Regions from separate parts of the Homo sapiens genome. Here all the other regions are linked to region 3. A link means that fine-mapping ties the variant in region 3 to the expression of a gene that starts in the linked region. Tissue or cell type: whole blood. Region 3 holds a variant in brackets; each other region holds the start of a gene. Each region is shown on its reference strand, or each on the opposite one.

Evidence for each region. PIP is the estimated chance that this variant, and not a neighbour inherited with it, causes the effect. A credible set is the group of variants that fine-mapping cannot tell apart.
Region 1: it holds the start of AGAP2, and the variant in region 3 is the best candidate, but not a certain one, in a credible set for the expression of AGAP2 in whole blood (TOPMed, PIP 0.51).
Region 2: RAB39B starts here. The variant in region 3 is fine-mapped to the expression of RAB39B in whole blood (TOPMed, PIP above 0.99).

Annotation. Positions count from the first base shown.
Region 1 is chr12:57,732,900-57,743,140 of GRCh38, forward strand. AGAP2 (ArfGAP with GTPase domain, ankyrin repeat and PH domain 2) reads right to left here and starts at 5,843. Exons shown (of 19, transcript NM_001122772.3): 1 at 4,180-5,843; 2 at 2,470-2,528; 3 at 1,693-1,780; 4 at 1,420-1,505; 5 at 1,127-1,274; 6 at 1-80. The coding sequence starts at 5,347. RefSeq lists enhancers at 731-1,930, 8,389-8,468, 9,002-9,061 and a silencer at 4,996-5,215.
Region 2 is chrX:155,260,588-155,270,828 of GRCh38, forward strand. RAB39B (RAB39B, member RAS oncogene family) reads right to left here and starts at 3,904. Exons shown (of 2, transcript NM_171998.4): 1 at 3,487-3,904; 2 at 1-642. The coding sequence starts at 3,701. The coding sequence ends at 216. RefSeq lists silencers at 3,682-3,891, 3,902-3,951.
Region 3 is chr6:7,141,625-7,151,865 of GRCh38, forward strand. The region is part of intron 1 of RREB1 (ras responsive element binding protein 1); the gene reads left to right. Among named protein-coding and RNA genes, the nearest start is that of RREB1, 39 kb to the left of the region's middle. RefSeq lists enhancers at 3,895-4,565, 4,824-4,973 and a silencer at 9,173-9,338. The variant T/TGATGAA (reference allele first, on the strand shown) is at 4,336.

The sequences.
Region 1 (10,241 bases), not on the chromosome of region 3:
GCTGCAGCGTTTCATGTCCGCGCACAGAGCTCTGGCACGAGCATCTCCCACCACCCGAGGGGAGGAAGCACTGATCCTGTCTGAGGGGACAGGAAAGGGGCAGGATTGAACAAGGAGCCCCACCTTGTTCGATTTTTCACAATTCCCTTATCCTTGCACTGGGCCCTCAGGCTGGGTCCACTGGGGATGGGGTGTGAGAGATCATCTTTTCTGTGACCAGGTGGAATGGGAGTACATAAGCCCTTTCTGAGTACTGGGCCCAGTTCACACACCTAGCTGGGTGAGCTGTGTGTGTGTGTGTGTGTGTGTGTGTGTCCTCAAGGAATACTCCAGAGCTGCTGAGTGGTGCTTCCTGACAAGGTCTACATAGCTGAGACCCAGGCGCGAGCGACAATCACCCTGCCCTGCAAATCCATAGAACCCTGAACTGGTGGGAGGACACCAGCTTGTGAACTAGGAAAAGGTTGGGTGCCCATGGGTCATGGCTGGACTGCCCACTCTGCAGCAAGAAACCAGGATGCAAGCAACAGGTGGAGATAGGCACCAGCAGAACAGGCATCCAGACCAAGTCCCACCAGCTCGACACAGGGGAGTGCTGGAAAAGCATTTCCTGGCCCTGGCAGAGTCTGGGAGCCTCTGAGTCACTTCTCTGAGAACTAAAAGGTTTTCTGCTCTCTTCTTTTCATCATCATTTCCTTTGTGTTTTCACTTTGTTTTTGGATAAGTTCCTTTAAAAGGTGTCAGCCTTACCCAGCTGTCGCAAAAAGGAAGATGGAAAAGGTTTCCTATCCACCCTAGGACTTGAGATTTTCTGTGTCCTAGGATGGTGGCACTAGGAAATGGCAGTGTCAGAACACAAGGTAGGTGACATTTCAGGAGAGGCAAGGAGATGGCTACTATAGCTGTCCTTTCCTCCCTGGAGATCCCCTTTTCTCTGCTCAGACCTTGGGAAGTTATTGTTTGGTTTCATGACTCCCTTATTTGGAGACCAGGCTCCCTCCAGAAGGGTACTATAATCCAAGTGGCCATTTCCACACCTTACCAAGTTCTCACCCATGTTGGGCAATATCCCAGTAGCCTCCTTAGGGCCTCCCTTGAAAGCAGTGCTTTCCTAACCCCTCCTTACCTTGTGTCCCCACCAGTGCCAAGGCCAGGCCTCCTCGTCCCTCCCCGCGAAGGGAACTCAGCTGCCCATGGAGACGGCTCACAGCCTGGAAACTGTTCTCATCCTCCAGGCTGAAGACGAAGATCACAGCATCTGCCCAGCCTGAGAACTTGCGGGGAGTGAGGGAGCAAATGGAAAGTCAGACAGGTCTACTCCTCTGGACCCAATCCAGATGAAGACCTGGGAAACCAGAGCCCTCTCCTTTGGCCAGTGCTGACCCCAGCCAGCCTGTCCCCCACCACCTCCACCCTCACCTTGGCATCAGGTGCCCCAGCTTCCTCTCGGATTAGCACCAGATGTGTCTGTCCATCCACCAACATTTCTTTCTTGTACTGCTCACCTGTCCAGAAGAGTTGGAAGGGGTAACAGGTCAGAGGTGACAGGTCACCAAACCTCCCCATGCTCCCAGTGCTTTTGCTATTATGGCCTCATCCTTCCCCCCTGGTCTCCACACCTGCCTAATCATTGATCTCACTCCTGGATCCCTGACCCCAATGGTTAGCTTACTATGGCTCTTCAGAACTCACTCTCTGTCTTCTCCAGCACCTGGTATGAGCCAGTCAGGAATCGGTGGATGAGCGATGACTTCCCACTCCTGGCATCGCCCAGCACACCCTGAGGGCAAGGTTGTGGAGCAGAAATTGTGGGATATAAGAGAAGGCAGGATGCATGGGTCTGGACACTCCAGAAAACCCAGAGAGATAAGTCATCCAAGCAGGACCCTACAGGGCCTGGATGACAGTCATTCCAGAGAGAGCAGTTGGGAGGATCAGAGCAGCTGGGGGGATCAGAGCAGTTGGGAGGATCAGGGCATGAGTGTGGTAAGAAATGATCCCAAGCTCAAAGTGGAGCACGAGCTGAAGAATGTCAGCAATTCAGTACCAGCTTTTTTGTGTGTTGGGTTGTTTAGAAAACATACTAGATATGTTGTGTGTGTGTGTCTCTGTGTGTGTGTGTTTGTAGCATGTCACAGCTCTAGGCACTAGTTGGAAAACTTTACCCAATTCTAGGCAGTACAACATGAAGGCCAAAGGGCAGATACCAGAAATGAGAAGCCTGGAGGAGGACCATGAACAAACAGGAAAAAGGGGATGGCTGCATAAAGACTAGATAGGAAAAACTTGTGAGGAGGCTGTAGCAAACCCCATGTTGGTGCTATGAAGGCAGACTCTCAGGAGAACTGGAAAACGATTCCCTATTCCCAAAGAGAGAGAGAGAGAGAAGGAGAGGTGAAGGGAGAGAGCTGAGAGTGCAGTGGGTGGGAGGTCAGCCTTCCCTATAGGCAAGGGGACTGGGTTACCTACCAGGCGCAGTTCAGGAATGGAGCGGCTCAAAGTCCATTCCTGGCTATTGATCACAGCCTCTGTAACGGGAGAAGGGCAGTAAGAGGGGAGGCTCCTGGCTCAGAAGGACCCCCAACACTGAGCCACCCCTCCTCCCTCTGCAGCTTTCCAACCCCCCCCCAACCCTGCCTGCACTGGAGAGGTGTGTGCAACAGACAGGTTTGAGGGTGGTCCCCAGGCCTCCCATCCCAGCCACTCTCCCCCAGCTGTTGCTGCCGCTCAGTGGTTGCTTAGCAACGGAGCTAGCAAGACAAAAATACTTCAGTTGGCATCTCCCTTAAAGCACATCCCCAAACGCGGGTCCTGGCCCCAGACAGGGAGACCAGGGCTCTGACAGTGGCAGGTTCTTCCCTCTGGAAAAAGAATAGAAGAGGAGCTCCTCCCTAACCCACTGGTTCCCAGGGCAGACCCTGGGAGGAGGTGCTGAAACACAGAAGAGAGTGTGTCTTCCCCAACCTCCATTCCACAGGAGAGAAACTGAGGTGAGGGGTTTCCCTCCCCTTCTTCAAGGTCAACGGCACTGTAGCCCTGGACCCCTCCCCACAGCCCAAGGGAAAGAGCTAGGATTTTCCTATGCCTCCATCTCCCACACCCTCCCCACAAACGCCCTCCAAAAGAACTGTGGGGAAGGGCTCCATCGCCTGGCCGAGAGAAGCCACAGGCCCGGGGGAAAGGATGCTCCTTCCGCCAGCCAGGTCCAGCCCCCGCGCCTGACACCGGCCGGACGTTCCCGGGGCGCCGCAGCTGCGGCGGGAACTCTGGGATCCGGAGCCATCTGCTCCCACCCGCTCCGGAGCCAAACCCCGGGGGCCGCCTCCGCTCCCGGACCCGCCTCCTCTCCCGGGAGTGTGAGCCGAACCAAGAGTCTCCTGCCTATCTCCTCCAGTAGGAAAATAGTAATAATAATAGACACCCTGCCCCCGTAAAAAACACTACCTTCCCCGTACCGCCTCCCAAGTCTCCCGGGGTACGGATTGCCTTTGCAGCAGTTCCGCCCCACCTGACTCACTCCAGGGTCAGCCCCGGGTGGGTTTCAATGCGGCTCTGGGGAGGGGGTGGGCAGTGGGGGAAGTGAGGCTTCCTATCCGCCCCCTCTCACTTCACATTTAAATATTCTGCACGTTCCAGCCCCCGCGGACTCGCGTACCGCCCAATCCGCCTTCACCGCACGAAAAACATCACTAGCCTGCTCTCAGCCCAGGGGACGACTAGTCCCTGGCGAGAAGCTGCCTGCAAGGTCACTGTCATGCCACCTGCCCCAAGTGCTCAGGGGAAACTGAGGCTTCCTCATCCCCTTCACCTTCAACGTCGCTCTAAACACGGCAAAGCCCCGTTTCCATGCTCCCAGAGTTCAGCTGAGGCTGGAAGTGGGGTCCTGGGCTTCTCTGGGAGCAATTTTCTAGTCACTCTGATCAAGGACGTTACTTTCCCAGAAAGCTCTGAGGCTGAGTCCCTCTGAAATCAAGTCCTTTCTCCTGTCGCACAATGTAGCTACTCGCCCCGCTTCAGGACTCCTATTCTTTGCCCCAATCCTTGACAGAGGGGTGAGCTTGGTTCATCCGCCCACCCCAGAGAAAAGCTTCCCTAGTTTCCTGGACCTCGCTCCTCCACCCCAAGCTGAGCATTCCAGGTACCCTTCCCTCCCTGTTCTCAAGCCCTGACTCAACTCACTAGGGGAAGCGCGGAGCTCGGCGCCCAGCAGCTCCCTGGACCCGCTGCCAGAAGACAGGCTGGGGGGTCCGGGAAGGGGCCCGGAGCCAGGAGGCCCTCCTGTGCTCTTGGTGAAGATGCCGCTGATAAACTTGAGCATCTTGCGGTCACGAGTGGATGCTCGGCCCCCCTCCCGGCCCCGTTTCAGCCCCGGAGCTGGAGGCTCCAGAGTGATTGGAGGTGCAGGCCCGGGGGGCTGCGCGGAAGCAGCGGTGACAGCAGTGGCTGGACTCGGAGTTGGTGGGAGGGTTAGCGGAGGAGGAGAGCCGGCAGGCGGTCCCGGATGCAAGTCACTGTTGTCCAAGGTCTTACTCTTGCCTTTCCGAGGGGACAACTTCCCTCGGGCTCCAGCCCCAGCCCCGACCCCACCAGAGGTCGAAGCTGTAGAGCCCCCTCCCCCGGCGGCGGCGGCGGTGGCGGCGGCAGAGACCGAAGCTCCAGTCCCGGCGCTGCTCTTTGACCCCTTGACCCTGGGCTTGCCCTCGCTTTCGGGCCATGACAGGCGGCTACCCGCGCCCTTGCCCCCGCCGGCTTTGGCTCCACTCGTGGTCACGGTCTTGCAAGGCTTGGGAGCCGGCGGAGGAGGCGCCACCTTGAGCCTCCGGCTGCCGGTGCCAGGGTGCGGAGAGGATGAGCCAGGGATGCCGCCGCCCGCCCGGCCTTCGGGCTCCGGGCCGCCCCAGCTCGGGCTGCTGAGCAGGGGGCGCCGGGAGGAGGTGGGGGCGCCCCCAGGCTTGGGGTCGGGGCTCAGTCCCCCGGAGAGCGGGGGTCCCGGAGGGACGGCCCAGAGGGAGAGGCGGCGGCCGGGAGCGGGGGAGACTGGGCGGGCCGGACTGGCCGGAGCCGGGGACAGGGCTGGGGGCTCCGCGCCCCCGGTGCCCGCGCTGCTCGTGCTGATCCACAGCGCATCCTGCCGGTGGAAGAGACGTTCGTGCCGCTTCTTGCCCGGCTCCTCCGCGCCTCGGGGGCTGCCAGGATCCCCAGTCTCGGAGCCTCTGGCACCGGCGGCGCCGGCCGCGGCCGCAGACGGAGAAGGCGGCGGCGGAGGCACCGACTCGAGCTTAACCAGGGTCAGCGAGATGAGGTAGGTCGTTGTCCGGCGCTGAAGCGCGCCCGCGCCCCGGCTCATGGGGCCCGGAGACCCCCGAGCTGGGGAGGGGAGGGGACTCCCCCGGACTGCCTCAGGGGGGCCCGGCCATGGGGCCGCCCTGCTCGCTGCCCCCAGCCCCCGGACCCCGCTGAGCCCCCGGCCCGGCTCCGCTGTCGCCGCCGCCTCCGCCGCCTCCGCTTGCGCCCCCCTCCCATCACATGGGGCGCCCCCTCCCCATGCTCCCCGCCCTGCGCCCCCACCCTCTTGGAGCCCCGGGACCTTGGTGCTGCTCCAGGGAGGCGCGCCGGACCGTCCACCCCGGCCTGGGTGGGGGCGCTGAGATGGGTGGGGGAGGGCGGGGAGGACAGTAGTGGGGGCAAATGGGGGAGAGAGAGGAAAAGGGAGCAGAAAAGGGGACCGGAGGCTAGGGGAAACGAACCTGTGCGGGGGAGGCAGGGGCGGGGAATTGGGACTCAAGGGACAGGGGCCGCGGATGCGGTCGGAAAGAGGGTCTAGAGGAGGGTGGGAAGCTAGTGGGGCTGGCCGTGCGGGGGATTCGCAGGGGCGCGGGGAGGATGCTGGGGATGGAGATACAGGAGGCGGCGGGGGAGGAAAGAGGGAACGGGAGGTGGGTGGGAACCCACGGGTCTGGGGTCTGGGAGGGGAGGGGCGTGAGATCCGGGCGAAGAGTCCGGGGGCCTCGCCTGGGCTCGGCTTGGTCCGGATGCGCGCTGTGTCCGGGCGCTCCCCTCACATTGAGGAGGAGGCGGCCCCCAGGCCCCCCCACCCTATCTCCCCCCCACCTTTTCTCCACCAGCACCGATGTCTGCGAGGGCGGTGCAAAATCCAGGGCTGGATTTCTCTCCCAAATCCTGGGCTGGATTTCCTGGGACTTGGACTCACCTCCTCCAACAACCTAGCCCCCTCCTCTCGCGCACCAAGGTTAGGAAGCGCGATTGTGAGGTATGGCATTTAGGGATAAGGGTGAAAATCGATCTATTGGGTGGACAGGGGCCGCGGTAAACAGAGCAAACCCAGGGTCACTGCCAATTCTGGGGAAGATGAAGTGGGAAAGTGGGGGCCCTGAAATCCCTTCCCCCAGGATCTCTTGTCTCCCCCAGGTACCTGGACGGTTCCCGTTCTCATGACCCAGCTCCCTTTCCCACTCACACCACCACATTTAATACTTTGACGGGGCCAAGACTTGAGCTCGACTGTCCCAAAGTGAACTTGGAAAATGTTCCCCAGGGATGGGGACAAACATGGAACTTAGCAGGGTAGGAGAGAAGGGAGAGATCTGAGTGCTGGAGGAGCCCAGGCCACAGGGTAAGTCAAAGGCTCCAGCTCTAGGAGGAGGGAGAAGGATGTGTCTTAGACTGATACCCCCCCATGCCAAAATGCATCCAGTCTCCATAGCAACCGTAGCTCCAAGAGTGCCTCAGAAACAGCGGGCAGAAGCAGAGAGGAATCCGTGTGTATGGTGGGTAGGGGACCAACCGCGGGATGCTGAATTAGTGGAGGCACTGCCCTGACACCTGGCTACCCACAGGTGGAGGATTTCACTCCCCAAGTATAAGGACCCTTCAGTTGAGGCAGTGAGAGCCGGCCTCTTCAGGGTTCCCTTTCAGTCTCCTGAGGTTTGCTGAGTGGGATTCTTTCAGAAGATTAAAGAGGAGGCAGGCAGAGTGAATGGAAACCGTCTGCTCCGTGTCCCCCACCCCTCTAGGGGTCTTGGAGTTCAAGGCTCTCTATCCTCCAGCCAGGTGAGAATCCTGAAGTGGTTAGGCCAAAGTGGAAAAGAGGTTGAGACCCCTTGGGGGTGGGGTAAGATGGGCGAAGGAAGGTCTCTCTGCAGCCTTGGAGACCCCTTCCCGGGACTTGGGGAGTCACAGCAGTCCCCTGATTTGGCGTCCCACCCTCCTGACGCAGCTGAGACTATAATAAGTGCTGCCGTGGGCGGCTCTTGGAGGCAGGAGCCCGCAGCGTGCTTGGCCTGGTGGGGGGCTGAGGGTGGGGGGGCTGAGCCAGGATGCCAGGAGCCCTTTGTTCTCCCAGAGGCCTGTATCCAATCCCTCCAATGTTCTGTCCTGGGGCTCAGCAGTTTCTCCCTCCCTCCCTACAGAACCAAGATGACACCATCCCCAGGACAGGAGACCCTTCAGTAGTGTTTTTTGATGGAGAGGGTGAAGGAGAATTGTTGGCTCTGGCTTAAACTTCCCTCCTTTGATGGCCTCGGTTTTCCTTTATGTTCAATGGGAACAGAATACTAATTCTTAGAGAAGGAGTAAAACAAATCACTTATGAGGAGTGAAGCCTTCTCAGGGATTTCCACCTCCACCCCTCCTCACCCTCCTCCCTCTCCAGAGCTAAGCACAGCTTTTCTGCCTGGCCTAAACCGCTCTTCTCCTTTATTATTATTATCATTATTATTTTTGAGAGGGGTGGGGCTTAGAGTTTCTCCCTAGGAGGCCCCATGGCCCACTCCCCCTTGGTCTGCCTTTCCAAACACTAAGGCTGTCAGGGGAAGCTTCAGGTGTAGTTCCTGGCAAAGGGTATGGGACAGGAGGTGAGAGGGGCACTAGCCTCCGAAGAACAATGGGAAGGGGATCATCAGACTGTCCCACTAGGCATCCAAAGCAAGCTGTTCCTTCCCCAAGTTATACTCTGGTGTACTAGCAGAGAGGTCTGGCAGGAGGTGTCCTTGAGGGAAAGAATGATCTCTTGACAACCACCCAGGTAGGCAGGTAACAATGGAGAAGACTGAAATGGCTGGAAGAGATCAGGATATGATGGAAGAAGTGTTTCCACCAGACACCTTTCATGAGCAAAGAAGGCTGCTTTTGTTAGCTCTTTGCTGCATCAGAGGTGAATGGAATGACAGCGAGCTGGAACAACCTCCAGTTCCACCAGTTCCTCAGTGGTAGGGCCTTGTGGATGGAGAGAAGCTGTTCCTGCCAGGGCTCCACCACAGGACTGAAGCCTGGGGTGGGCAGGAGGATGTGGCGGATGGTGTTGCCATGGCAGCATTTCCTCCCTGTGTTGTCATCACTTGCTCTAATGGCACTAAGGAGGTAGAGCGGAAGGTGTGTGGGGGGAAGACAGGAACAGGAGCAAGGGGAGGAGAGGGGACCAAGAAGAGTTCTGGGGACCTATCTGCACTTTGGCTCTGCAGAGCATAGTGTGTGAGAGTTAGTATGCGCTTGGGAGCCTGAGATTCTCTGCATGGTGTACTTCAATGTGCATGCGTGTGTGTGTGTGTGTATGTGTGTGCATGTGTTTCTCTCTACAGCTGGAGAACAAGAGGTCACTGATCCTTTGTGGGTCCTGGGAATGAACTCATTATCCAGTCCCAGAACCTGCTGCCCCAGACTGCTTCCTGCTCTGGACTCCCCAGGCAGGGAACAAGTCTACCATGAGTCTGTCACAGCCTATCTTCCCCATGCTCACACATTTCTTCATTGCCAAGAAGGTCAGCTCAACAGGGACCTGTATTTTGATCTCCTGGGAGAAGGATCAGAGCAGGGAAAGAGAAAGAATGATACCTCCCATGTCTTTTTCCATCCTCCCTAAATGTATTCTTTCCCAGAGTCCCATCTTGGGGACTAGGAAGTAGCTGACTGGGAATTGATATATGATACAGCTAAACCTTCTATGCACCTGCTAGTCCCTGATACACCCAAGTTGAGGGCTGACCTTTCTCTTACCTCGAATGCTGTCCAATGAGGCCTGGATGCTGTCCTGGAGTTCGGGGTCGTCCACCCTCTCTGCCAGCTTCCTGAGGCGGTTTAGAGCCTGCTTGGCCACCTCATGTCGTCTGACTTCTGCTCTCACTGCAGCTACAACGAACTGCCTCTGGGCATGCATGTTGCCCAGACCTGTCTTGCCAGGCTAACAACCACCTCTGGCCCTGAGGCCCATGGCCCTACAGCCCCCAAACCTCAGAAGGCCCCTTCTGCTGTGCCCAGAACTCCCCGCCCCTGCCCGCCCTTCCGTCTGTCGACCTCACTTCCTGACTGGTGAGTTTCAAACCCACAGCCTGGGACAGCACTACCTCCTGCACCTCCCACCCCCTCTAGTGTTGGCCCATCAACCCTGCCAGCCAGTCCCTGCTATGATTTCCCAGCCAGGTGGATGGAGAAATCTTAACAGTGTCCCAGGGCCTCCTGTGGGAGGTGGCTAATTAAGATGGGTGTTGGTTCTGGGAGAATATGGCAAGCTAGGTCCGAGGTGCAATCCTAAACTCTTGATGACCTGCGGATTTCAAACTCTCACAGGAATTCATGCACATTTGGTCTGTTACCCTCACAGCCCTGCATTCTAGTATACACTTGTACCCATTGCCCTCTCTACACATCCCAATGAGCCCTGTATCCTTATGTCTTACGATGTAACCCTTTTTCAGGCAGCTACCCACTGAGGCCACCTCCTGTTTAAAAGGGCCAAGTGAGGCCAGGCGTGGTGGCTCATGCCTGTAATCCCAGCACCTTGGGAGGCTGAGGCAGGAGAATCACTTGAACCCAGGAGGTGGAGGTTGCAGTGAGCCAAGATCACGCCACTGCACTCCAGCCTGGGTGACTAAGCGAAACTCCACGTCAAAAATAAATAAAATAAATAAATAGGCCAAGTGATTATGGGGAAAATCAGTTATGAAGGAGGAAAGTAACCTATAAAAAGACAAAAACTACCATGTTCCATGTCCAATCGCTTTCATAATAATTAACATGACTATAACACTTAATAGTTTACAACATACTTTCATATATATATTATCCTCATGACAGCCCTGAGGAGTAGGATTATTTATCCCTATTTGCATAAAAGGAAACTAAGGCTCAGAGAAGCCATTAAGAGGTGAAACAAAGACATGGATTTAGGTCTTCTGATTTTATTTTTACATTTTTATTTTTATTTTTTACCAAGCACATAAAGCCCA
Region 2 (10,241 bases), not on the chromosome of region 3:
CCTGGCCTGGCCCATGTCAGCAATTCAGTCCCTTGGTCACAGCACTCAGGCACCCCCATCCACCCGCACACGAGTCTGTCAGAGTCCCCCTGAGAGGGAGGCTCACTTGGTATCCAAATGGAGGTTGAGTTCTCATCAGTTACACAAAGATTCTATTTATTTCTCTTACTTTTCAGTTCAAGTAGGAGAGCATGTTTTGGAAATAAAAGAACTGACTAGCACAAACATCTCCTCTCTGATTTGACAACCTCTTCTGAAGAGTGAACCACATTTGGTACAAATCCACTCTTCACCCCTTCCCAGCCCTCCTGGATTGTAATCTCCCCCCTTTTAACCAGCTCATATATGTCTCTTGTCAGGTCTGTGAAGGCTTTCTCCACATTAATGGCATCTCGGGCTGACGTTTCAATGTACTTCATGCCGTATGCAGCAGCCAGTTTCTCGGCCTCGTGGCGAGTCACTTGCCTCTGTGTATCCAGGTCACACTTGTGACCCACCAGAACAAATACAATTTGGTAGGGCTGAACGTGTACTTTGGTCTCTTCTAACCACTCATGGACATTCTGGAAGGACCTGCGGTTGGTAATGTCAAATAAGAGAAGACCACCTACTGAGTTCCTGTAGTAGGCGCGAGTGATGGATCTAAAACACAAGAAAGAAGTAAAGAGTAAAGGCTGTGCCCAAACTTCTGCATGTCAATGAACTCAGTATATTCAAGTGTTCCTGGTTAGTGACACAGTCCTTTAATAAAAATGATTTTCTTTTTTTTTAAAAAAACAAAGGAATACAAATGGCATTCCATACTACTACTAATATGTGAGTTTCCAATTGGGCCAAACTTTGAGATGGGCATCTTCTAGAAACGAATGTTCATGAACTTTTAGGCATTTTCCATGGATTCAGCACTGGAGAGTGACCCTGGGACATAACTGAGTTCTATTTCTTGCCTTCAGGTAAAACTACAACTAACTCTCCCACCCCCCAAATCTGAATAACTGACAGAGACTTCCTTTTCTGCAAAATAGGATACCCAAGTCACAGTGTTACCATGAGGCAAAATGAAACAATGGATATTAAAGTGTTCTGTGACGTGGAGAGTTCATTACAAATGCTAGCAGTTGAAACAGGATTTTTAAAACATAGAAATGAATTTATGATAGTTAACAAAATATTTAAAGTAGGTATCTTGCTACTCCATTTTTTCCATTTATCATTACCATGTTTTTTTCTCTTTCCATTATTATTATTGTTTATTATTATTATTATTATTATTATTAGCTAACAGGGATCCTCAATCTCTTCTGTGAGGAGAAACACAATTTTATTTTTTATTTTCAAGGCCTGTGGGAATGGGAAAAAGAGAGATGGCGAAGGGTTCAGGCAAAGTGCCTCTCAGCCCTGTTTCCTGACACATTTCAGAGAGGCCAACTCAACTCAGGAGCCATCAGAAGAAACTTCACATGTTTTAACTTCTTGACTTGAGGAACCTCATTATAAATATACATTATGGCACTTTGCTTACAGTGTATTAAAGCTTATTACAGGGTATGGACCTATTTGTCTCTGCAGTCACTTGCTTTAGACTACTGTGATTTTTTTTACCTATGTCTATTTTTAGGTTTTCTGTCTCCTCAGATAAAGAAGATAGACAACGAAGGACTCAATAGCTTAGAGAAAATGGCTCAATGTTAGCAGAACAAGCATTGTCCAGGGACCTACAGTCCAAGCTAGATGATGGTAAAAGTAAAACTTACAAATGACTTTAAGTCTCCAAAATCAGGCAAATCAGCCCTGGGGACTGAAAGCATTTCTCGTCTCTTAGGTTTGAAGATTCATGGAGAATGGTAGATTTACCAGAAAATTTAGACATGAACAAACAAAGGTTTTGATTTGTGAGAAGGTTGATTCAAGAAATCAACAAGCAAGCTGTAGATCACTGTCAAAACTCTGGAATATATTATTACATTAATTGTTTGTGAGTACTTAGCAAAGAAAGTGACAAAGGCCTTCTAAGCATGGACATAAGGCTACATAAACCTTAAATTCTTCCCTACATTAAAAAATCTTAAATAATGTGAAAAGACAGATGATAAACTAGGAATATATCTTACAACATACATGACAGGAAAGGGTTAATATTCTTAATCTATAAAGTACTCTTACAAGTCCATATTGCCCAATAAATAAATAAGCAGTGGATATGAACAGGCTGTTCATATAGAAAGAAATTCCAACAAACACATAAAAGATACCTTTCTTTGCTTAGGAGAAATGCAATCGCAAGTTCAAAGTGAACCTGTACAAGGATATTTTCCACAGTGGTGTTTGTGGAAGTGGGGAGCTGGAGGTAACTTAAGTTTGTAATTATTTCTTCTCCTTACCCCTCTTCAATTACCCAACCAGTATCTTCTATGCTTAGTTAGTTTTCAATAGATAAATGAGTAAATGATCATAAACTTGGGCTATTGAGTTTTCTTGATCTGGTTCCTGCTGCTCTACTTTAGTTCAAATTGTTCTCTGCAAAGTTTTCTGTGTACACTCTGCTCCCTCTCACTTCTGTCTTTATTCATGCTGTTTCCTATCCCTGGGCGTTTCCTGTCTTTGCTTAGGCAGTCATACTCATCCGGTCTCATCTTCTCCAGTTAACCTTTCCTCCTCTGTGTTCATACATATAATTACAAATAATACATGCTACAATAGAAAAGCAAAGGGTTCTGAGTGAAAGTAAACATATTCATTGATTATTCAATGAATTCATTGATTGAAATTAAGCATGTTCATTTTGTGCCAAGTGTTACAGTAGGGAGTGGGCATACAAATATGAGCAAGACACACTTTCGTAATTGCTGATTATCTATTTCCCTCAACTATGTTAGCACAGAAGTTCCAAGAATGAAGGGGCTTTGTCTGTTTAGATTACATGGCATCCCCTTGTGTGAGTCTCCTCACACTGTTTTCCCAGGAACAAGCCCAGAGTCTGGCACATAGTAGATGATCACTGAATGTGTGCTGGTTGCAAGAAGGAATCAATCGTATCTATTTCATGTTAGAACATATGTTAGCATATATATGTGCACACACACAGATGTGGAAATAAAACATAATACACATGTATTTATGTATTTAAATCTCTGTCAGTTATGTTAGGATGACCTGGGAACGTTTTTGAAAGTATGTAACATAGGGACTGAGATTGATGAATTACAGATACAGAGATCAATTCCAGCTAGTTTGTTAGCCACCAAAGGGCAGGTTGGTGGAGTTGTGGTGCAAGCAATATGTGTTATTGACCGGCCTTCCCTGCCAGGGCGCTTCTTTCCTTGCACTAAACTCCGGGTTAGCCGAAGGTGGGCTTCGGCAGAATCCTCAAGACCCTTGGTGTTGCCCTCCTGGACCGCACCTAGAACCAGGAAGTCCTCTCTCCCCAGAGGCGGTGCAAACCCCGAAGACCCTCCCACTGCTTGCGGGCCCGGACTGCGCTCCCACCTGAACCTCTCTTGACCCGCGGTATCCCAGATCTGGAGCTTGATGCGTTTTCCTGGCTCGATCTCCACCAAGCGGGAGAAAAAATCCACCCCCACGGTGGGGTCAGAAACCTGGGCAAAGCGACCCTCGGTGAAGCGGCGGATCAGGCAGGACTTGCCCACTGTGGAATCCCCGATGACAATGAGCCGGAACTGGTACAGCCAGATGGCCTCCATGGCCGCGGCTCTGCAGGTCTCCTTGGCCCGGACCGGGGACGGCGGGAGGGGGCGCCCCGCCGACGCCTCAGAGAGCGCGGCTCGGCAGGATCTAGCTCAGCCGCGAGCGCATCGCTGGCCTGGGAGCCCGAAGCTGGGTAGGCCCAGGCGCCGGGAGAGCGGAGGGATGGATGCTGCGCTCGCAAAGGTGATGAAATGGCAGCAGCATCAGCACCACGCACTCTGACTCATCACTGACAACCGGGTTACTGTAATCCCCCGCGTAGACGCGACGCCTGGGCCGCCGCACTATCTGTAAGAGGAGCGCACACAAAATGGCTGCAACATTAGCGCGATCCCTCCCTTTCTAACTACCCCACCCACCCTCTGTTCATTAAAACTGTTCTCTGTCGTTCAAACTGCCAATGTCATACCTTTTCATTGAAACTAGCAAAGCAATACAAAACTGCACAAAAAAGGGAAGGCACATAATTATATATTAGTCTACAAGTGTTTCCATGCTCACATAAACACACAAATATTATATGTGTTTGTATTCCTATATGCATTTATTGCTGTTTGTTTTTACAAAAATTAAACTGGGGCCTTACTTTCAATTAATAATTGCTTTTTGCAATTAATAAAGCAACATAAATATCTTTCCATTTCCACCTAATTTCCCTTTTGTCATAACTTATTTTAAAGTGTAGCCACAAGTATTTTATTTCTGTGAGCTACAGTCTTAAAAAAGGGGCCATGAATTCAAAGAGTATAAGTATTTTAAATTTAACGGACATGGGCATTCTACTTTCCAAAACTATTTAACAGTTTAAATTCTACCCAGCAATGTGTGAAAAGACCATCGCTCTGCATTATTTCAAGCATCATATGTATGTTTTATTCTTTCTTAATTCTTCTCAATAGAATTTAGTTAAATAAAAATATGTCTCATTGCTTTATTTTTACATTTCTCTGACTACTGATGAGGTCAATACCAAGTCTTGTGTATTGACCATTTCATTTCCTCTTCTGGGAATTGTCTCTTCATATCCTTTGTATTTTTTATGTGTAATTTTATTTTATTTTTTTTTTGAGACAGAGTCTCTCTCTGTCGCCCAGGCTGGAGTGCAGTGGCGCGATCTCGGCCCACTGCAACCTCTACCTCCCGGGTTCATGCCATTCTCCTGCCTCAGCCTCCCGAGTAGGTGGGACTACAGGTGCCCGCCACCACGCCCGGCTAATTTTTTGTATTTTTAGTAGAGATAAGGTTACACTGTATTAGCCAGGATGGTCTCGATCTCCTGACCTTGTGATCTGCCCGCCTCGGCCTCCCAAAGTGCTGGGATTACAGGCGTGAGCCACCGCGCCCGGCCTTCTATGTGTAATCTTTTATCGTTGCCTTACTCTTTAAAAAAAATCAGCTTCATTAACATGAAAATTCACATACTGTACAATTCACCCATTTAAAGTGAACAATTCTTAGCATAGGTTTTTAATATACTCACAGATATATACAACTATCACCACAGTTAATTTTATAACATTTTTATCACTTCAAAAAGTAACCCAGAGGGGTGGGGGGAGGGGGGAGGGATAGCATTAGGAGGGATTACATTTACCTAATGTAAATGTAAATGACGAGTTAATGGGTGCAGCACACCAACATGGCACACGTATACATATGTAACAAACCTGCACGTTCTGCACAGGTACCCTAGAACTAAAAGTATAATAAAATATGTATATATATTTTTTAAAAAAAGGAACCCAGAACCTTTTAGCTATCATCTCTCTATCCCATGTTCCTCCAGCCTTTGGCAACCATTAATGTACTTTCTGTCTCTATAAATTTCCCTATTCTGAACATTTCATATACATGAAATCATATAATATGTGCATTTTTGTGACTGGCTGCTTTCACTTAGCATAATGTTTTCAAGGTTCATTCACACTGTAGCAAGTATCAGTACTTCATTCCTTTTTGTGGCTGAATACTATTCCATCATATGGATAGACCATATCTTGTTTATCCATTCATTCATTGAGGGACATTTGGGTTGTTCCCACCTTTTGGCTATTCTAAATAATCCTACCATCGAATATTCATGTGCCAGGTTTTTTTTTTTAATATCTGTTTTCAGTTTTTTGGGATTTATACCTAAGAACGGAATTCCTCAGTCCTGTGGCAACTCTATGTTTAACCCTTTGATGAAATGCCTGACTTTTTCACAGTGGCTGTACCATATTACATCCCACTGGCAGCCTATGGGGTTCCAATTTCTCCACATTCTCTCTAACATGGATGTGAAGTGGTACTTTATTCTAGTTTGATTTGCATTTCCCTAACGACTGATGACTTCAAGCATATTTTTACATTCTTATTGGCCATTTGTGTATCTTCCTTGGAAAAATATTGACTTAGATCTTTTGCCCATTTTTAAACTGGATTACTAGTCTTTGTATTATTGAGTTATAAGAGTTCTTTATATATGCTAGACACAAGTCCTTTATCACATATATGATTTGCAAATATTTTCTCCAATTCAGTGTGTTCTTTTTTTTCACTTTCTTGAGGGTGTCCTTTGAAAAACAAAGTTAGATTTTTAAGAAGTACAATTTATCGAGTTTCTATTTTGTTGCTCATGCTTCTGGTGTCATGTCTAAGAATACTTTGCCCAATCCAAGGTCATGAAGGTTTACTCATTCTTTCTTCTAAGAGTTTTATAGTTGTAGTTCATTCATTTAGGTCTATGATCCATTTTGTGTTCGTTTTTATGCATGGTGTGAGGAAGGGGTTCAAATTCATTCCTTTGCATGTGGATATCCAGCTATCCCAGCACTCTATTGAGGATACTATTCTTTCTCTATGGAATGATTTTGACACTCTGGAAAATCAATTGACCATGGATGTATGGATGTATTTTTGGACTTTCTATTTCTATGTTAATAAAGCTGATTTGTTTTAAAACAGTAAGGCAATGATAAAAGATTACACATAAAAAATACAAAGTATATAAAGAGACAATTCCCAGAAGAGGAAATGAAATGGTCAATACACATTGGTCTATATGTCTGCCCTTATGCTGGTATGACACTCTCTTGACTGTTGTAGCTTTGTAGAAAGTTCTGAAATCAGAAAGTGTGAGTCCTCCTACTGTGGAGGATCCAATCTTTTCAAAGATTGTTTTGGTTATTTGGAGCCCTTTGCAATTTCATATGAATTTTAAGAACAGCTTATCAGTTTCTGCAAATAAGGCAGTTGGAATGCTAATAGGTATTGATTTGACTCTGTAGATCAATTTGGAGAGTGTTGCTGTCTTATTAAAATTAAGTCTTTCAATCCATGAGCACAAGATGGATATCATTCCATTTATTTAGGTTTTTAAAACTTGTTTTAACAATGTTTCATAGTGTTCAGTGTATAAGTTTTGTACTTCAAGTATTTTGTTATTTATGATGCTATTGTGAATGGAATTGTTTTCTTAATTTCATTTTTAGATTGCTCCTTGCAAGTTTATAAAATGGAATTAATTTTTGCATATTGATTTTATATCCTCCAACCTTGCTGAACTTGCTTATTAGTCCTAATAGTTTTTATTTATTTATTTATTTATTTTAAATAGTAAGTTCTGGGATACATGTGCCGAACATGCAGGTTTGTTGCATAGGTATACACGCGCCATGGTGATGTGCTGCACCCATCAACCTGTCACCTACATTAGGTATTTTTTCTAATGCTATCCCTCCCCTACCCCTCCACCCCCCAACAGGCCCCGGTGTGTGATGTTCCCCTCCCTGTGTCCATGTGTTCTCATTGTTCAACTCCCACTTATGAGTCAGAACATGTGGTGTTTGGTTTTCTGTTCTTCTGTTAGTTTGCTGAGAATGATGGTTTCCAGCTTCATTCATGTCTCTGCAAAGGACATGCACTCATCCTTCTTTATGGCTGCATAGTATTCCATGGTGTATATGTACCACATTTTCTTTACACAGTCTGTCACTGATGGGCATTTGGGTTGGTTCCAAGTCTTTGCTATTGTGAACAGTGCTGCAATAAACATATGTGTGCATGTGTCTTTATAGTATAATGATTTATGATCCTTTGGGTATACACCCAGTAATAGGATTGCTGGGTCAAATGGTATTTCTGGTTCAAGATCCTTGAGGAATCACCACACTGTCTTCCACAATGCTTGAACTAATTTACACTCCCACCAACAGTGTAAAAGTGTTCCTATTTCTCCACATCCTCTCTAGCATCTGTTGTTTCCTTTTTTTTTTTTTTTGAGACAGAGTCTCGCTCTGTGGGCCAGGCTCCAGTGCAGTGGCATGATCTCAGCTCACTGCAACCTCCATCTCCTGGGCTCAAGCAGTTATCCTCCCTCAGCCTCCCGAGTAGCTGGGATTACAGGCACGTGCCACTGTTTCCTGACTTTTTAATGATTGCCATTCTAACTGGCGTGAGATGTTATCTCATTGTGGTTTTGATTTGCATTTCTCTAATGACCAGTCAAGCTACCATTGACTTTCTTCACAGAATTGGAAAAAACTACTTTAAATTCCATATGGAACCAAAAAAGAGTTTGGCAATTTTGTTGTTCTTTTCAAAGAACCAACTTTTGGTTTCATTGATTCTATTGTTAATCTATTCCCTTTGTTTCATTTATCTCTGCCCTAATCTTTATTATTTTCTTCCTTTTGCTTGATTTTCTTTTAGTTAGCTCATCTTTTTCCAGTTTCTTAAGTTGGAAGGTTAAGTTATTGATTTGAGATTTTTTTTCTTAATACAGGCACTTATAGCTATACATTTCCCTCTGAGCATTGCTTTATCTGAACCCCATAAGTTTTGGTATCTTTCTTGTGTCTTCATTTTCATTTATCTGAAAGTATTTTCTGATTTTCCTTTTGATCTCTTCTTTGACCCATTTGTTATTTATTAGTATTTTGTTTAATTCTCACATATTTGTGAGTTTCTTATATCTTTTTCCTACTATTGATTTCTAATTTCATTCCATGTGGTCAGAAAACATACTTTGTATTATTTCTATCCTTTTAAATTTCTTGAGGTTTGTTTTTTTGGCATAGTATATAGTCTATTCTGGATAACGCTCCATGTACACTTGAAAAGAATATATCCTCTGCTGTTTTATATATATATATATATAATAAATATATATAACATATTATATATAATATATAACATATTATATATAAAATATTATATATTATATATAATATATATATGTATAAACTGTTATGTCTAGTTGGCTTATAAAGACTTAGACATAAGTCTACTGTTTCCTTGTTGATCTTCAGTACAGTTGTTCTACATATTATTGGAAGTGGAGAATGAAGCCTCCAACTATTCTTGTAGAATGATTTTTCACTTTAACTGTCAGTTATTGCTTCACATATTTTGGAGCTGTATTGTTAGATGCATATATGTTTGTAATTGTATCTTTCTGATAGATTGACCCTTTTATCACTATGAATTGTCTGTCTTTAGTAGCTGTTTTTGTTTTGAGGTCTATTTTTTCTGATATTAGTATAGTCACTTCAGCTTTCTTGTGATTGGTGTTTTCATGATATGTATTTTTCATCATTTTACTTTCAATCACTTTGTATCTTTGAATATGAAGTGTCTGCTGTAGACAGCATATAGTTGTACCATTCGAAACATCTAGCCATATAATCTTTGCTTTTCTTTAAACAGATTGTTTAATCTGTTCACATTTAATGTTATTTATTGATATAGTGGGATTTATGTCAGCCATTTATTTGTTTTTCTGTATGTCTTAATATTTTTGTTCCTCTAGTCTTCTCTTATTGCTTTCTTTTGCACTAAGTGAATATTTTTTGATGTACCATTTGAGTTTCTTAATTCTTGATTAAAATTTTTTCACTATATTTTGAAGTATTTTTTAGTGGTTCTTTAGAGCTTACCATATATATCTTGACTTATCAGAATCACCTTCAGATTTATACTAGCTTTATTCTAGTGACATATAGAAACATTATTCTTATATAGTTCTTTTTTTTTTTTTTTGAGATGGAGTCTAGCTTTGTCACCCAGGCTAGAGTGCAGTGGCGTGATCTTAGCTCACTGCAACCTCCATCTCCCAGGTTCAAGCAATTCTCCTGCCTCAGCCTCCCAAGTAGCTGGGACTACAGGCCTGAGCCACCACACCTGGCCAATTTTTGTAGTTTTAGTAGAGATGGGGCTTCACCATGTTGGCCAGGCTGGTCTTGAATTCCTGACCTCAAGTGATCCACTTGCCTGGGCCTCCCAAAGTGCTGGGATTACAGGCATGAGCCACCATGCCCGGACTCCTGTATAGTTCTATTGTCTTGTCTGTCTTTTTATAGTACTATTGTTATGCATATTATGTCTATTAATGTTACAAACCTATCAATGCATTGTTATAATTATTGCTTTATCATCTATATTTCCTTATCCAAATATAGCTTTGCTCTCAGCCACCTCTTTTGTGTTGCTTTTGGCAAATATACTGCATTCTATGTTATAGACTGAAAAATACATTTTATACATATGTTATGGAA
Region 3 (10,241 bases):
TTTCAGAATAAAAACATGTAGCAGGGTATTTCATGATGGGTAGCTCCAAAAACTTTTGTTTAAAAGAAAAACCACGTATCTAGAAAATGCTCCTTTAAGCCTTTTTTGACGAGGAGGAGGGGTGCAGACACTTGCCTGCGGCAAAGTGAACCTGGAAGGAGCGGGGCGTGTGTAGGACAGAGCCCAGGAGAACGGGCAGCCGGGTGGCCGGGCCAGGAAGCAGGGCCTTTCTGGCCCTTTCCGCAGAGGGCTGGATAATTGCCTCTCCTTTCTAAAAGGAGCCGTTTTCTGGGCCGGGAGCGGTGGCCCTCGCCCATAGGCTCACGCTCGTAATTCCAGCAATTTGGGAGGCCCAGGCAGGCGGATCATCTGAGGTCAGGAGTTCGAGACCAGCCTGGCCAACATGGTGAAACCCCGTCTGTACTAAAAAAAATACAAAAATTAGCTGGGCGTGGTGGCGTGCGCCTGTGATCCCAGCTACTCAGGAGGTTGAGGCAGGAGAATCGCTTGAACTTGGGAGGTGGAGGTTGCAGTGAGCCGAGATCGCGCCACCGCACTCCAGCCTGGGCAACAAGAGTGAAACTCCGTCTTAATTTAAAAAAAAAAAAAAGGCTATTTTCTGAGAATGGAGGTGGAGGACCACACAAAACCCAGCCAGTTCTCGTGGCTTCCGCTTTTACACCCTCCTCCGAGAGCCGGCTCCCATGCCCTTCCCAGCTGCGCTGCCCTCGGCACCACCGGGTGCGTCCCCCCGCAAAGCTGGACGCCCTTGTGTCCTCCCGCCTGCCCTCGGTGTCAAGTCTCCCTCCAGGACGCAGTTTCTCGATGTTCTGTACTGGAAGTACATCACCGGTGAGGGCAGCAGGTCACTGTTTGGTAACCATCAGGCTGTTCCGGTGGCTAAAGGTTGCCTGCTGCCAGGCGCCTTGCTGAGTGTGCCCTGCCTTAGTCTGAGACAGTTCGTGGGGTCAGGCTTGACCCCCAGCAGGCCCGCTTCATGAGCTGGCGCCTCTGCAGCCATGTGATGGGCGGAGCCACGTGGGGCTAGCTTACCAAGCCAGGGCACTGACTTCTGCCCCAAGGCCGGGCAGGGAGGACCCCAGCACCGGCCACTCTAGGACCCTAGAATGAGTTCAGTGACTTTACGTGGCACCCCCTCTTTCCACTTTGAGACTTACCTCACTTTTGCTGCACCACCTTTGGTGGTCGCTTTTCTCTTAATAGTGATTCTTCATTCTTCATGGGGGGATAACTTTTCTCTTCTACACATGCTGGGACCCCTCTCCAGGAGGTTCTGGTGGAGCATGAACCAGTGGCTGGGGCATTGGAAGCTTCCCAGGCGATGCAAATACAAAGCCCTAATAAAGCTTTCAAAACTGCGTTAGAAACAGGTCACTTTTACATTTGTGTTGGAAACTTGTCTTGAGACAAATGAATACATTTGAGCCACTGGGATTTTTGGGGAAAATACAGCTAAAAGGGTTAGGAAATGATACATAAGGAAATTCTCCCATCTGATGCTGGCTGGCTTGCTTGCTTGCTGCAAACCCGAGTGTTTTCTATTAAGTGAGGCATTGTGGTTCCTATGCTAGCCCTGATGGGCCTTCAGCACTGGCAGGTGTAAATGCGGCTCATTAATTTTTTAAGAAGTTGGAACTCTGACAGTTTTCAGGGATGCTGAGTAGCTGGTACCAGATGTTTCTTTTGTTAAGGGCATGGAGAGGCAGTGTCACAGGTAATCAGGCTATGGTCGTTCACTCCCTTGGTCTGAGACTATGCGTTTTGTGGTGCTGAATGTTTTCTTAAACCAAGAAGGGTGTGGGGAGGTGCATGTTCTGGTTTCTAGTTGGGCTTTCCCCCGACACTGGCTCTTGCAGTATTATCTTAGGTAGAGGTGTTGACTCAATTATCATTAGACCCAGCTCCTGTTGGAAGAGAGTAAATGGTGCTTGGGGCCTCTTTATCTAGACCGTTTTGCCACCGCTGAAGTGACAGCCTGTGCTTCTAACTGAATTCAGTCCTTTTTTTTCACTCCCTTTCTGTGGAACAACAGCAAAGTCGGCTGCTCATCATTCGGGTGCAGACTTTACAGCCTCTGAACAGCCTCTGCTTTTGCAGTTTATGAATGCACCATTTGTTGTTTTGAGCACAACTGTTAGATACAACTGGCCTCTGCAGCCCACTCTGCCGGCGACCAGTGTGCATCACTGCAGCCTTTTTTTCTTTCTTTTTTTTTTTTTTTTTTTGCATAGGCCAAATTTTTGCTTTAAATACCACCATTTTGTCCACACTAGAATTTCTTTGACCCAACTTACATTTTTTCAAATGTAAGTTTCAGAAATAAGGTTTTAATTTGCTCAAACTGTTGGTCTAGGGATCCTGAATAAGTGCAAGTATTTTACTTTATTAAAGGGGGAATTGTTTTTGTGGCTTGGTTTTGCACACTTTTTTTTTTATATTCTCAAACATGTGACTTCCAAATTTTCCTTTAAATTGGGTTGAAGTTAGAAAGTTTTATTATTTCCTAAGTCATTATATTTTTTCTTTTTGAGCTTTATGCACAAATAATGTTTTCAGTTTAGAACTTAAGATCTTAAATGTTCTCATAACAAAAAATAAATATATGAGGTTATAGATATGTTAGCTTGATTTAACCATTTCACAATGTATACATGTATCAAAACCTCACCTGTACACTGTACATATACAATTTTAATTTGTCAACTATATTATAATGTGAAACTTAATTTTTAAAACTGAATTTAAGGGAAACTGTCAAAACCAAACTTTACAATGTGGTATTGAAGAGTATTTATAAGTAACTGTTTAATTTCTCATTCTTCTGCTCTTGAAACATGGTCTTATCCAAAGGTGATAGCATTAATGTTAGGATTTTCACTTCTGTTTTGTTTTTCTCACATAGACATTCTTTGGCCCTGTGTAATTATATAGGTGCTGTGTTCTCTGGTTGTATACATTGACATTATTCCTTTTTTTTTTTTCACAAATTATTTCTATTTCTTTGTATTTTAGTTAATGAAGTATATTTTAATCTTTTTCTACTGTGCTTTACATATTCAACAACTGGTTCAAATTGTCAGTTCTAACTGCTTTTAGGCCTTGCTTCTCCCAAGGAGATACATTTCTGTTAAGGCAGCAGTAAACATCTTACAGCAACCAACTCTATGTGCCTTGGTATCCTGGAGCTTCCAAAAATGAAACAGTCACTTGTTGAAAATGAAGAAGCTTTCTGTAGTTGAATTTTGAAGTAGATATATTTATTTGTTGTCCTTCAGCGAGGTTATGAAGGCCCTGGGTTACATCTGCATTTTTTATAAAATTGCGACATACAAACATAGTTAAGGGGGGAAAGTGTAATCTTTTGTGAGAGTCATGCTTTCTTCTTCGTCTCACCGTGTAGAGGGGAAGATCTGTCTTTTTATGATTAAAAAAGACACCCATTCTTTCCACTACCTGAAGAATCTTGAAGGTCCATGTGAAGACAAAGCAGCCATAAACAACAAGTTAGAGGGAAAACGAGCTTGTGTGTTAGTGCTTCCAAGAGCAGTTTTCTCAGCTCTGATCTGTTGTAATTTTCAGAGCAGGTTTACATGTGTGGTCGCATGTTTTGGTGGTTGGTTTTGACCTGGACCTTTCAACTGAGCAAAGTCTCCTTGGACTTTTCTCCTTTTCCCATAGTTTCTTGCTGGCTTCTACCTGTGATTAGTATGTGTGTTGCTTAAAATGGCAACTGAAACATCACCAGGAATTTTCACCAGGTAGAAACTGCTTTTCCTGTATCAAAACAACCAGTACAGCTTAGCTGATGCTTCTGTTGCTAAGCAGGTAAATTTCTGGTCTTCAGGCTGCCCTTATTAACCCTGTAAATGCCTAATGTCAACCGAAGAAGAAGAAGAAAAGAACTTGATGCTTCCTTCTCACCTTAGTGCTTTGTTCAAGTGCGTGAAAACTGGACCTAGCTCAGCCTAATTTCCATGTATCTATTTTAGAGGACCTAACCTCGATTAACCTATTTTGCAGGGTCAGGAGGAGAATTGGGAGATGGAGAGGGCCTGTGAGGTTGGTAGTTTCCAGTGAAATGTCAGCCCCAGTAGCTGATAGTGGAAGTCTTATACTAGATGACCAAAATTATGGGTTTATTTCAGCCAGTAATGGGCCCCGTCTTTTTCTTTGGGACTTTTCTCTGCCTGTAGCTGCCCCTATGCCTGTGGGGAGAAGAAGAGGGAAGAAAGGGGTTGCTGTTTGCATCTATTTGCCAGAAAGGAGTTAACAGAACATACCGCAGAACAGGTTGGGCAAGACTGTTAAAGCCAG[T/TGATGAA]GCCTTCCTCTCTCTTTCTCTCTCTCTCTTTCCCTACCCCCTACGCCACCTCTCCGTATCCCTCTCCTTCCTGCTCTGCGCACCGTCTCCCCACCGCCCCCCAGGACTTTAATACATCTTCAGACTATACTCCCCCCACCAACACACACACACAGATACACACACACACTTCAGTATCTGGCTTTCCTTCTAGGCAGAACATGGATGTGAATAAAACACTTTGTGGAGCCTGTTGTGTGAGAAGCAGGCAGCGGCTGTGGGCCTCAGCCTTGCCATCTGTTTCTAGAGCAGTCTGTGGCCCGCTTACCATGCCCTCTGTCATGTAACATAGGCCCCATTCAGCAGCAGCATTCTTGAATGTGCATTTATGTCTCTGTGGGACCGGGGGTAGATGGCCTGAGAGGGGGAAAGCAGGAGATGGGAGGGGAGGAGGCGAGGTGGGGACGGAGAAGGAAGTGTGTGCACACGCAGACAGCCTGGGAGGGCAGTGAGGTGGAGTCACTGCAACTCGGTGCCAGCAAGTCAGGAGACATTACTGCTGGAAGTATCCACAGTTAGCTCTGACTTAGGGGACGTCTTGTGGCCATAAATGTGGAGGAACCGAGCTCTTTAAAAGCCAGTTTGGGTCTGATATAAGTTCTGCTTCGTGTTTGTGTCCATTCACTCCGTAAACATACCATATATAGTCATGTTTGAGCTCACTATAACACACATTGCAAGGGAGCCGCTCATAGTGCACACATCCTTTGGCTGTTAGAAGCAGACTCACATAGGCTATTTCTGGTGTGTCGTGGCTTTCTTCTTTCTTTTTTTTTTTTTGGTGGGGAGGAGGTGGTGGGGGAGGGAGAGGAAAAGGAGCTCTTTTTCCTTCCATCTTCACACTGGTTGGAAGATGTTTCTGATTCTAGTTTGTCTGGCACTCTGAAAGCTAAGGAACTGTATTGTCATGGCAGAAGAAACAATTCTCTGTGTGCATCTGTTTTAGAATGAAACCGTACTTTTCTTAGTATCTTAACATCACATGCATTTTGTAGTTTATGGTCTCCAGTCTCCAGCTGTTTTTGGAGCACCTTCTAACTTTGAGAGGGTGAGCTCTAGCCTGTAAAATGGACTGTGGGTGGCTCGTGGAGAAGGTGCCCTGGTGTGCTTTTCTGTGTCCTCTCTGGATTCTCCCTGAGCTGTCCACCTCTGAAGCCTGCTTCACCTTCAGACTGCCAGGGCAAGACATGCAGCTTCTGCAGAACTCATGGCAGCCGTTTTCCACTTGGCCGAGCTGGGTCTGTGAAGCAGAGAGGAATCAGTAATAGGAAAGAAATGTAGTTGTTTTTTTCCCCCTTAGAATACCTACCATACTGCATTTCAGCTTGGAGTGCGCAGCATGAGGCATTTGTGGTTCAGAAAAGAGGTCTTCCTTTTTCCTCCTCCTGTTTTCTTTTCCTTCCTTCTCCCCAACTCCCCAAAGGCTTACTGCCTTTCTTCTCAGGCCACGTGTGTAGATAACCTTTGAGGAAAAGATGGTTTCCGTGCTGGGATATTTGGATATTACCTAAAGGGACAAGATGAGCCCTTTCTTTGCCTTGTTTTCTTTCTCTGGCCTCATCAGAGTGAATTATATCTGACTGTGTGACAGTTAATTGTACCATCCATCCCGTGTCCTAAGCTGATAAGCCCCTCTCTGTCTGCCTCCATCAAGCTTCTTTGTTTGAGAAGTTCCTAATGCAGTAGGAGAACAAAGTGACAGTTTTCTTATTTACTGAAGTCTCTAAAGCACATTCATAATGCTCTTCATTGTATCTTTCTTATAACTTCATTCCTTCAACTTAGGTAATTAAATTGTTCCATAGTACCAGTGATTGATAAGTTAAAACTTCCTCAGAAACATCAGTGAGTTCAGGAAAAAAAAAAAAAAGTTTGTGTTTTAAGCTGCGTGTATTCATTCCAAACTATTATTGGCTTGGTAGACAGTATTCACAGTAAGACACTGGACACTGCTGGATTGCCAATTACCATTGTGGATATAGCAGTTGATTAGCTAGCTGACTCAAAAGTAGTATATTGCTTATGTAGAGGTCGCTTATTTGGCATTCTTCGGTCCAGAATATTCAGCCGATGTGCTTGCGAGTGAGTGAGAGCCAGCAGGGTATACGTGGGGGGAGAGGTATGTAAAATAAAGTTTTCAAAGCCACAAAGGTGTTAGGAAGTCCTGGTACTAACACTCCTACCTTGATTCCCATTGATCCTTTAGGCCTGCACTTCAGCACTATTTATTCTTACTGTAGATACAGCCCTGGCCACCTTGTCTCACATTTTCCAGTCTACATTTCTGAGGCCAATGTTGGGGATGGAAAAAAGCCATCAGAAGGAGACACATTGACAACAAGCAGAAAAGATGTTAGGGGATGAGACAAGAATTCAAACGGCATGGCGGATTCCCATTGGGGGAATTTCACAGACTGGACAGAGGAGCCCTCTGTGTTATTTCTTAAAACTGCCTGTGTATCCACAATTATCTCAGGAAAATTTTCAATTGAGAAAAACAAGCATGGCCAACAGAGCCATGTGGTACAGTGGCAAAAGTAAAGTGGGGGGGGGTGGGTATGTCACTAGTTTCCAGAGGCAGCCTAGTGTAAGTTGTTCATCGTGATGATCCTGAGTCACCCCCACAAAAGGCTGAATTAATCATACATTGATTCACCATGCTATGCTTAAGGAAACAGGGAAGTTTGAAAGATACTTTAGAATGATTGACACCCAGGAGTTTTATATGGAAAATTAATTTCTGAATACTTTCCTTCCCCCTCAGTGATGTGCAGCTGCTTCATGAGTTAACATGACGTGTTAGAATAAACCTTTCAGTATAGTCAGACATATACTAAAATATTATATATTTTGCCCAGATTTGTAGAAAAAAAGTTATTCATTAACAGATTCAGATGATGTCCAAATACCATACCAGGTTGTCTGTATTCCCTTTATTTTTTGAGACAGAGTCTTGCTCTGTTGCCCAGAATGGAGTGCAATGGCATGATTTCGGCTCACTGCAACCTCTGCCTCCCAGGTTCAAGCAATTCTCCTGTCTCAGCCTCCCGAGTAGCTGGGACTAGAGGCGCGTGCTACCACACCCAGCTAATTTTTGTATTTTTAGTAGAGTCGGGGTTTCACCATATTGGTCAGGCTGGTCTCAAACTCCTGACCTCAGGTGATCTGCCCGCCTTGGCCTCCCAAAGTGCTGGAATTACAGTTGTGAGCCACCACGCCTGGCCATTTGTCTGTATTCCTAATGTGAATTGTGCATATTTATCACCAAAAGAATATATAAAATGTCATGGATTTTTAAAAGCAAATGATACCAAAGATCCCTAGGTACCAGAGAAGTCATAGACATCCTGGAAAACATAGTCTCTGTAGAAAAGGAATACTGAACTTAAAGGAAGTCTCAAGTTAAATTTAAACCATCAAATGGTGAATTGGAAGGAAGGAGTGCCCTCAACTAAGACTTACTGTAAAAAACCATAGAATTTTAGAGCTGGAATGGACTTGAGAGGTGACTTGTTCTGTTTTTATGAGTTTGTCTTCATTTTACCCAGTGTTCTTCCACAATTCATGTCTGTGCCCAGAATTGAACAACTCACCTGGAATAGTGTCCACATGGCTTTTTGGCCATGAGGAATAATCCTAACTTGGAAAATAATAGGTATTTACTCAGCAGAAATTATTAGGTTTTGGGTTTTGTTTGTTTTTTGTTGAGACAGAGTTTCGCTCTGGTCGCCTAGGCTGGAGTCCAGTGGCGCAATCTCGGCTCACTGCAACCTGGCGCCTCCCAGGTTCAAGCGATTCTCCTGCCTCAGCCTCCTGAGTAGCTGGGATTACAGGTGTGCACCACCACGCCTGGCTAATTTTTGTATTTTTAGTAGAGACGGGGTTTCACCATGTTGGCCAGGCTGGTCTCAAACTCCTGACCTCAGGTGATCCACACACCTCGGCCTCCCAAAGTGCTGGGATTATAGGCGTGGGCCACTGCGCCTGGCCTGGTTGGTTTTTTTTTTTTTTTATTCTTTTTTCAAGGTTATTTGCTAATTTTATTCTTCTCAGTAGTTCCATTTTATAGGTAGAGAACACTTCAGCACTCCATGGTGCTATACCAGACTCTTTCTTGGCCTTGTTATATATTAATGGACATTTTCATGGAAATCCCAGGGTTGAAAACTCCCCAGAGTTGCTAATACCTGCTACTGGTTCTCAAGTGGTTTGATATTATATACATAAGTGTGGAGCATTGCTGGACCCAGGTTTTAATAATCAGATTAATAGATACATTTGAAACATTGTCATATTAGCTTTTAATACTACTGAATTTAAGTCTTCTGTGCACTTAGGTTTGCTGTAACGCATGGTTAACATATATAGGTTGGTATAAATTTTTCTGTTCCTGATTCAGATAGGGTTTTTGTGTGTTTTGGGTTTTTTCTCCATAAGAGAAATTGTTCCCTTTGAAATTTTAATTAGTTTTGAAATTAAACTATAGTTGTGCATATGCATGGCAGCTATACCTCCTGATTGCTATGCTGAAGGTAGAAAGTATTCTCTTGTTGTATAGACATTGGTCATACTGTCAGGCAAGGGAAATGCCACTAATTTCTGTTTCTTGAATTGCATACCAGAAATAGGAATTCGTTGTCTGACTGTTAGATGCTCAGGGCAGATGGAAAAGTAAGAAAAACCAGGACTTCCCAGGAAGCAAGTGGCAGATCTGTGTGCTGACTGTTTCAGGGTGGGGATGGCACAGAGGGGGCTTGCAGGAGAGATGTGGCCGAGGGTGGAAGAGCTTGTCTTCGGTGCCTTGTGATAAGCGACCTGCAGCCTGTTGCAATGGCGACTGCATTTGAGATGGTGTGCTTGTAACATCCGCCGGGTAGGCGGAGCCTCAAGGACACATGTTGAGAGGTTGGGGTGGTGGAGCCAGGAGGTGCAGTGAGCGAAGCATCCAGGCGTGGATTTGAACAGCTGCTGGCCGCCCGGAGATCAGCCTCCATGCATCAGTCATAGGCACAGAGAACTCATCCGTGCGGCTGGAGGCTGAACATGGAGAAGGAGGGAAGGGAGCTGCTTTTTCAGTTAATACTCTTGATGCTTCCAGAGCAGTTTAAAGATACTGCGGAAATTTGTTGGGTGGTTCATTGTTTGTTTTAAAAGCTTTGCCCCCTTCACGTAATCCTATCTTTTATTTAATATAAATGCAATCAGTCTGCTTTAAACACTGACTAAAATTGCTTTTACTAGATATTGTATTATGTATAAGGGGGGAGCTGAGGCCCAAAGAGAAGAATTTGATCAATTGATTTAAGGTTGTTGGAGGATTGAAATGTTACTTGATTGCTGGTCTTATCCAGGATTTCAAGATTTCAAGGAAAAGTGGACAATGCCTGCTTTTATCTAAGGGATTTCAGCAGTCATATGATCTACAAACCAGCCCCCAGGAGCAGCAGGCCCTGGCAACCTCTGTGCTATGGAGTCCACGCAGAACAGGGACTTCAAAGTGCTTGGGGTGTGCTGGCTTGGGAGTCATTTCGCTGAGAACTGGTTTTGGTCATGGCCTTAACATCTGCATAGATGTTGCACATTGCAGGCACATGACACTTGAATGGGCTGAGATTTAGGTGCAAGTTGGTAGAGCTTAAAGGGGAGGTAACATTAGTGAGGCCAATGGGCAGCAGCCCCACTGCTGAGCACACACTGCAGTTCCCTGCAGGGTCAGGGAGAAGGTGGCCTTGCCAGGTTGAGGCTAGGAGCAGAGATCATCTTGTTAAGTTCTCACAAATCAATTACTGACACGGGAACAGTGTGTAAAAGTCTGAAACCACAAATCTTTTTGGACATTTTGGCTGTATAAAGCATATCATTTATAA